Homo sapiens: one gene and its partner. The protein of the gene in region 2 purifies or fractionates together with the protein of the main gene of each other region. This does not show direct contact. Each region holds a gene or a part of one and is shown on either strand. Other genes may lie near its edges.

The links. Proteins that work in one complex are often made in the same cells at the same time.
Region 1: the proteins of CCDC124 (region 2) and PRKRA purify together in Homo sapiens (affinity purification with western blotting; one study listed by BioGRID). This does not show direct contact.

Annotation. Positions count from the first base shown.
Region 1 is NC_000002.12:178,437,676-178,441,328, forward strand, and holds part of PRKRA (interferon-inducible double-stranded RNA-dependent protein kinase activator A), read right to left. Parts: intron 2,569-3,653; exon of another isoform or gene 1,192-2,568; intron 1-1,191. UniProt on the Homo sapiens protein: Activates EIF2AK2/PKR in the absence of double-stranded RNA (dsRNA), leading to phosphorylation of EIF2S1/EFI2-alpha and inhibition of translation and induction of apoptosis.
Region 2 is NC_000019.10:17,931,460-17,935,212, reverse strand, and holds the start of CCDC124 (coiled-coil domain-containing protein 124), read right to left. Parts: upstream 2,199-3,753; 5' UTR 2,165-2,198; intron 118-2,164; exon of another isoform or gene 22-117; intron 1-21. UniProt on the Homo sapiens protein: Ribosome-binding protein involved in ribosome hibernation: associates with translationally inactive ribosomes and stabilizes the nonrotated conformation of the 80S ribosome, thereby promoting ribosome preservation and storage.

The DNA.
Region 1 (3,653 bases), on a different chromosome or scaffold from region 2:
AACTGTCTTGGAGGGGGCTTGTTTTCTCATACCCTCACTAATACCAGCTATTATCAAATTTTGTAGTTTTTGCCAATCTAAAAGGTGAAAATATTTTATCTTGCATGAATAAAGTTGAATATTTTTTCTTTTTTTCCCTTAATCGTTTGCATTTCTTCTACTGGGTTGTCTTTTTAACTGATGCATAAGAGCTTTTTAAATTTTCTCTTTTTTAAGAGTTAGGATCTTGCTGTGTGGCTTAACTCTCAAACTCTTGGGCTCTAGCAGTCCTCCCACCTTAGCCTCCCGAGTAGCTGGGACTACAGGCATGTGCTGCTGTGTGCAGCAGATGTGTACAAAAGAGCTTTAAAGGTAGTACTGAAAACAGTTCCTTTATAGTTCTATGTTGAAAATAATTTCTTCCCACTTTTTTATTGTCTTAATTTACAGATTTTTTGCTGTGCAGTAGGTTTTATGTTGTCAAATGTATTAATCTTTTAACCTAGGTTTTAAGTTAAAATGCTTTCCCCATGCTAAGATTTTTAAAAAGAAAAACTCTTCCATGTTTCCTAATATTTATACTGTTTCAAATTTTTATGTTCAAATCTTTGATCCATCTGAAATTCACTTTGGTGTAAGGAATAAGGAAGCATTCTAAATAGATGTCATACACATCAACAAATATATATATATAGCCCCCACCCAAATGTGGATGTAAACTGTTTCTACATCATTATTGAATAATCCATCCTCTCACCCACTGATCTGAAATCTCACTGTTGCTATATACTATGGTCCTATGTGGATTAGCATCTACGCCTGGATTCTCTATTCGCTCCTCTGACTATTCCTGGCCCAGTAACTTGTCTGACAAGTTCAGTTTTACAGTATGTTTTGTTCTCTAGTAAAGCAGCACACCCTTGCTCTCCCAACTCTTCCTTTTCAGTTTTCTTGGCTATTCTTGAGGGTTTTTTTCCAGATAAACTTCAATAAACGTGTATCAAGGTCCAAAATGAACGCTGGTAGGTTTTTTTTTTTTTCGAGTTGGGGTCTCACTCTGTCGCCTAGGCTGGAGTGCAGTGGCGTGGATCTCTGCTCACTGCAAGCTCCGCCTCCCGGGTTCATGCCATTCTCCTGACTCAGCCTCCGGAGTAGCGGGGACTACAGGCGCACGCCACCAGGCCCGGCTAATTTTTTTTTTTGTATTTTTAGTAGAGACGGGGTTTCACCGCGTTAGCCAGAATGGTTTCTATCTCCTGACCTCATGATCCGCCCACCTCGGCCTCCCAAAGTGCTGGGATTACAGGCGTGAGCCACTGTGCCTGGCCAAACGCTGGTAGGTTTTGAGTGAGACCACATTACATTTAAATATATTTACAATGTTTTCTGCTCTATTCTTTAGTAGACTTTTCCTCACGTGGTCCTACGCATTTCTTTCTAAGTTTATTTTCATATAGCCTATCCCTGTCTACAATTTAAATTGGGATCTTCTATATTCTAGTTATTATTTGTAAATAAGAAAACTACTGACTTTTTTCTAGTATATTTTCTCAGAATAGGATTTTCTATTTTTCTATAAAATGACCAATGTTATGAAGCTTCGTAAGTTTTGTCAAAGTGATACACACATACAGCAAAAAATCAAATAGTACAGAAGTATAAAAGCAACAACCTCTGCCTTGCCCCTTCTCCACCTTCAGGTCCCCTTCCCAGATACAATAATTTTTAGCTTTTTATTTTTAATTATTCTGGTTGTTACCTACATAACTCTGGGCAATATGGAAAAGTTATTGATTTTGTATATTAATTTCATAATCAGTTACCTTGATGAATTCTCTTGTTTCTAGTAGTTTTTCTTTAGGGTTTTAAAGGGATACAATCATACCATTTGCAGTTAGTAACCATTTTATCTCCTCTTATTTCCAACTTCGTACTGTTTTCTCTTGTCTAATTTGTTTTTAATTGGTGGGTACTTCTAGAACAAGGTTAAATAAAAGTGGTGTTGGTGGGCGTCCTTATTTCTGATATTAATGGGAATGAGTATAATGTATAAATATATAACCATGATTTTGGTTTTTTTCCAAGTTTTTATCAGTAATGATTGCTGAGTTTTATCAAAATTTTTTTGGCATCCATTGAGAGGATTATATATTACTCTTTGACACATTAATGTGGTTAATTAAAGTAACCAACTTATTAACCTTGAAATAGTCTTAGTTAAATAAACCCTACTTGTCAATGCTATATCATTATTTTAATATTGTACTGAACATTTTACAAAGGTGTTTCACCATAAGGCATATTGATCTGTAATTTTTTTTTTTCTGTTGAACTTGCTATTGTCAGGTTTTGGTGTATTATGTTGGTTTTGGAGAATAAATTTAAAAGTTTCCTTTATGTTATCTATACATTGCCTGAAAAGAGTTTAAATAGCATTGAAAATGATCTCTTCTTTGAAGATTTAACCAATTTCACCTGTAAATCTGTCTGTGCTTTGTAATTTTGGTGATACTGTTGACTCAAATTCCAAAAGCAGTAAATGCAGTGTTTTATATTTTTCTATTAAAAATGTAAAATCAAATTATATTACTCATTTGTATATAGTCTTTGATTTTTTTCTAAAGAATGAGCCCTTATTTTATCATAAGCTCAGTGAAGAAGTTGCTACAGTTGTACTTTTTTATTTCCCACCTAATACACTACTCTCAGATAATGTACCACATGACACACCTATCTGTGAATATCAGAATCTGAAGTTATATATCATGTGTAGGCCAATCTCTTAAGCTCTGAATTTATTTGTTCAGCTACTCGATATATTCACTTAGCTATTCCATAAGCTATTCCATAAGCACTTCAAATTCAATATATTTAGTTCATTATCTGCTCCCCTCTTGCTATTGCCAAGTTTAAAATAGTAATTTCCTCCCTTTCCCTTGCTTCCCACATCCAATCAATTACCATGCCCCTTTACCTCAGTTTTCTAAATAACTTTAAAATCTACCCATCTCTCTCCATTTTCCCAGCCACTACCTTAGTTCAAGCTGTCATGTCTCACGTGTCTTCTGTAACAGCACTCTCGCAGGTCTCTTTGATCCTAATTTCACTCACTTACCATAATGCAGCCAAGTGATTTCCTTGTAATGTATAGACTAGATCCTGTCCTTCCCAGATTAAAATTCTTTAATGACTTTGTACTACCCTTGGGATAAAGTTCACTTTCCTTATATAGGGGTCCCTTTAAGATTTAATCCCTCTTTACTTTGCTGGCCTCATTGAGACTCCCTCCCTCCAACACTATGTTCTACACACAACAAATCACTTAGGGCTCCTAGACTGCATACGATGTTTCACTCCTGGCCTTTGCACACGCTTTTTCTTCTCTCTGGAATTCTTTTCCCCCATTCTACAGGTCTTGGCTTAGACATTACTTCTTCCTGGAATCTGTCTCCAAACCTGTTTTTGTTGGATGCCTTCTTCTATGTTCCCACATCACACTCTGTAAGGACTAGCCTATAGAATTCCTTCCTTTCAGTAGTCTATAAACTCCTTAGAGGCAGGGACTGCTTATTCACTGCACCCCAGTACCCAACACAACACTTAGCACACAGTATGAGCTCACTAAATGTTTGCTAAGTGAATGAATGAACAAACAAAGGGATGGAAATGCGCTG
Region 2 (3,753 bases):
AGGCCGGGTGCGATCACTCACGTTTGTAATCCCCGTGCTTTGGGAGGCTGAGGCAGGAGGATTGCTTGAGGCCAGGAGTTCAAGACCAGCCTGGGCAACATAGCAAGAGTCCGTCTCTACAAAATAAAAAATAATTAGGCACAGTGGCTTGTGCCTGTAGTTCCAGCTACTTAGGAGGCTGAGGTGGAAGGATCGCCTGAGCGTAGGAGGCTGAGGCCACAGTGAGCTATGATTGTGCCACTGCACTCCAGCCTGGGCAACAGAACAAGACCCTGTCTCTTAAAAGAAAAAAAAAAAAAGGAAACAAGGAAACAAGGCACCAATACATACATGATACAATGTGGTTGAACCTCAACAACACAATACTAAGTGAAAGAAGCCAGACACAAAAGGCCACACAGTGTGAGAGTACATTTATTTATTTATTTTGGAGACAGGGTCTCACTCTGTCGCCCAGGCTGGAGTGCAGTGGCGAAATCTCGGCTTACTGCAGCCTTGACCTCCTGGGCTCAAGTGATCCTCCCACCTGAGCCTCCTAAGTAGCTGGGACTATAGGTGCAGGCCACCATGCCTAGCTTTTTTTTTTTTTTTTTAAGGCAGGGTCTGACTATGTTGCCCAGGCTGGCCTTGAACTCCTGGGCTCAAGTGATCCTCCCGCCTCGGCCTTCCAAAGTGCTGGGATTACAGGCCTGAGCCACTGCGCCTGGCCCTTCGTTCCTTTTTATGGCTGAATATTCCTCCACTGCATGGATACGCCACATTTTGTTTATCCATTGTCCACAGCTAGACATTTGGGCTGTTTCCACGTTGGGGCTTTTTTTTGTTTTGAGACGGAGTTTTGCTCTTTCACCCAGGCTGGAATGCAGTGGCACAATCTCGGCTCACTGCAACCTCCACCCACCCGGTTCAAGCAATTCTCCTGTTTCAGCCTCCCAAGCAGCTAGGATTACAGGCACCTGCCACCACGCCCGGCTAATTTTTGTATTTTTATAGAGATGGGGTTTCACCATGTTGGCATGTGCCACCATGCCTATCTGATTTTTGTATTTTTAGTAGAGACGGGGTTTCACTATGTTGGCCAGGCTGGTCTCAAACTCTTGACCTCAAGTGATCCGCTTGCCTCGGCCTCTCAAAGTGCCTGGATTACAGGTGTGAGCCACAGTGCCTGGCAATTTCTGCTGTTTAAGCCACCCAGTCTGTGGTATTAGTTATGACAGCCCAAGCTGGAAATACAGACACTTTTCTCTGTGTAGTAAACACTCACTCACTTGCACACGTCATTCAATAAATATGTACTGGGCACCTAATACGTGTGCGATGCTGGGGAAAGAGGTGGCACAAATGAGCTTTCTGCCTGCATGGGACTCCCAGAGAAGAGCCAACACATGCAATCAGAGTCCTAATAAGGACACGCAGGGCGCCGGGGAAGCCCGGAGAGGGCTTCTGACCCAGCCTGGGTCAAAGGGCTTCCTAAAGGAGACATCTAAGGAAAAGTCTGAATGAGTGGGGGAGAGCGCAGCCTGCACGCGGGATGCAGGAGGTAGGCTGGAAAAGGGGGCGATTTGTATTCCAGGGAGATGGGAAGGTGTGGAGGGCGTTAGAGCCGGGAAGCCCAATCTATGGGTCACACAAGCCCTCTGGGGTTAGTGAGGAGGTGGACTCCCCAGATGGCAGGAGCTGGGAGCCCAGGCGGTACCCAGGGAGTGGCTCAGGCTGGGCGAGGGGCACACTTAGAAGCGAATCAAGACCCATGGGGATTAAGACCCCACGGATGTGAAGGTAAAATAACAGAATACAAAATTCAACAATGCCTCCTCTAAGCAGCCCTCCCGGCTATCCCTTTTGAAGTCCCCCACCACTAATCCCCCTACAAGAGGCCGGGGGAGTCCGCGCCCAACTCTGTCCCTCTCGAGACCAGAAGCTGCCTAGGGGCAGTCCGGGGCCAGGTGGCCTCGAACATGCTGTCGCGTCGGGCTTCAATCGTCTAGTCTGGAAATGGGCATCGCCCCCAACTAGGTGCGGTTCAGACTGGACGCCAGAAGTGCTCCTGCCTCCCAGCACCCCTCCTCCAGCCTTCCCAGGGGATGGTCCCAGGCCAAGCAGCCCCCGCCCCGCGCCTCTGCTCCCCGAACCCGGGTTCCGCCCGCGCCGCAGACGCTCCTACCTTCTTACCCCAGCGCCGGCCCGGTCGCGCCTCCGTGACGTCATCATGGGGCCTGCGCGCTGAGCTCCTGGCGGCGCGCACTCATTGCGCCTCAGTACCGCCGCCATTTTGGTAAAGAAAAAGATGGCTGGGCCTCGGACCCAAGCCAGGGTAGTCAGCCACTTCTTTGTCTCTTCAAAAAGAGGACACTTAATACGCCCTCATTCCCTACGCTCATTTAATATGTTGATGAACCAGGAGGGGCGGGCAGAGGCGAAAATCTAGAACATTGCCTTTACCAAGATGGCCGATGCCCGGATGAAAGATGGCAGCTGCGACTACACACGTGGTCCGGCGGCTTCAGCCTGGAGCGGCCCGGCCGCCAGAGCGCGCCCGCGGTCCATGAGGGGAGGTGGACCCAGTATAGCCCTGAGGAAGCCTCTCCGTAGCTCTTCGCAATCCCTTAACGCTTTAAAAGTGCTTTCCTAGTCCTGAGTCTCTGCGTCCCACTGGTGACGCTGGGGCGGGGCTAGGAGAGGGGAGATAAATGGGGCAGAGAAATTAACACACACCGCGCAGTCCAGGTAGGGAAACCGAGGCTCAGAGAGACCAGGAATTGAGTTTGGCCAAAATGTAACCGCGAGTAGGCTCATAACCGCGAGTAGGCTCAAATTCCGTCTCTTGCTCCTGCCAGTGCCTCTTCCTGGATTGCTGACCTGCTCCCCACTTCTGCAATATTATTTATTAATTTTATTTAGAAATTAGGTTTGAGGCGCCAATTTGTCTTAGGCACTATACTTTAGATTTTCTGCATTTACTACTTCTCGGTGTTCTCAACAGTAAAAATGGCAGTATTAGGGGTCTAAGGTTACACTGGTCCTGACTGTGGAGAGGGAAAAGCAAATGCTTTGGGGGCAGTTCAGGTAGGAGTAGTTGACCACAGAGTCCATTCCCTAAAAGGCATCCCCCCAGCGACCTTGCTGGGACCTAAATCCCAGTGCGCGATGCACCTCCCCTGCTCTAACGCCTCCCCTGGGTTCCCATTGTCCCGCAAGACTCCTCCCACCTCCCACCCCATCTCCCTTGGCTTCCCTCACCCTCCCATTAGCTCTCTGCTCAGGTCGCACCAGCCCCCTTCTTACAAATTGCCAGGCGCAGTCTTGCCTCAGGGAGTTCCCCCAGGAATTTCCCAGGTTTTTCCGTGGCCAGTTCCTTCCCTTCAGGCATGAGACAGAAAGGTCTCTGGGTGCAGGGGGCTTAAAGTCGGAAAATCACATGAAAGATTATTATCCTGGCTGGTCGCAGTGGCACATGCCTGTGATCCCAACCCTTTGGAAGGCTAAGGTGGGAGGATCGCTTGAGGCCAGGTGTTTGAAAGCAGCCTGGGCAACATTATGAGACCCCATCTCGACAGAAGATAAAAACATTAGCTGGGCGTGGTGGCATGCTCATCCTCCCATTCAAGAGAATCACTTGAGCCCAGAAGTTGGAGGGTGCAGTGAGGTATGATAGCGCCACTGCACTCCAGCCAGCCTGGGTGAAGGAACCTCTCTTAAAAAATACTAATAAAGGCCAGGCATGGTGGCTCACGCCTGTAATCCTAGCACTTT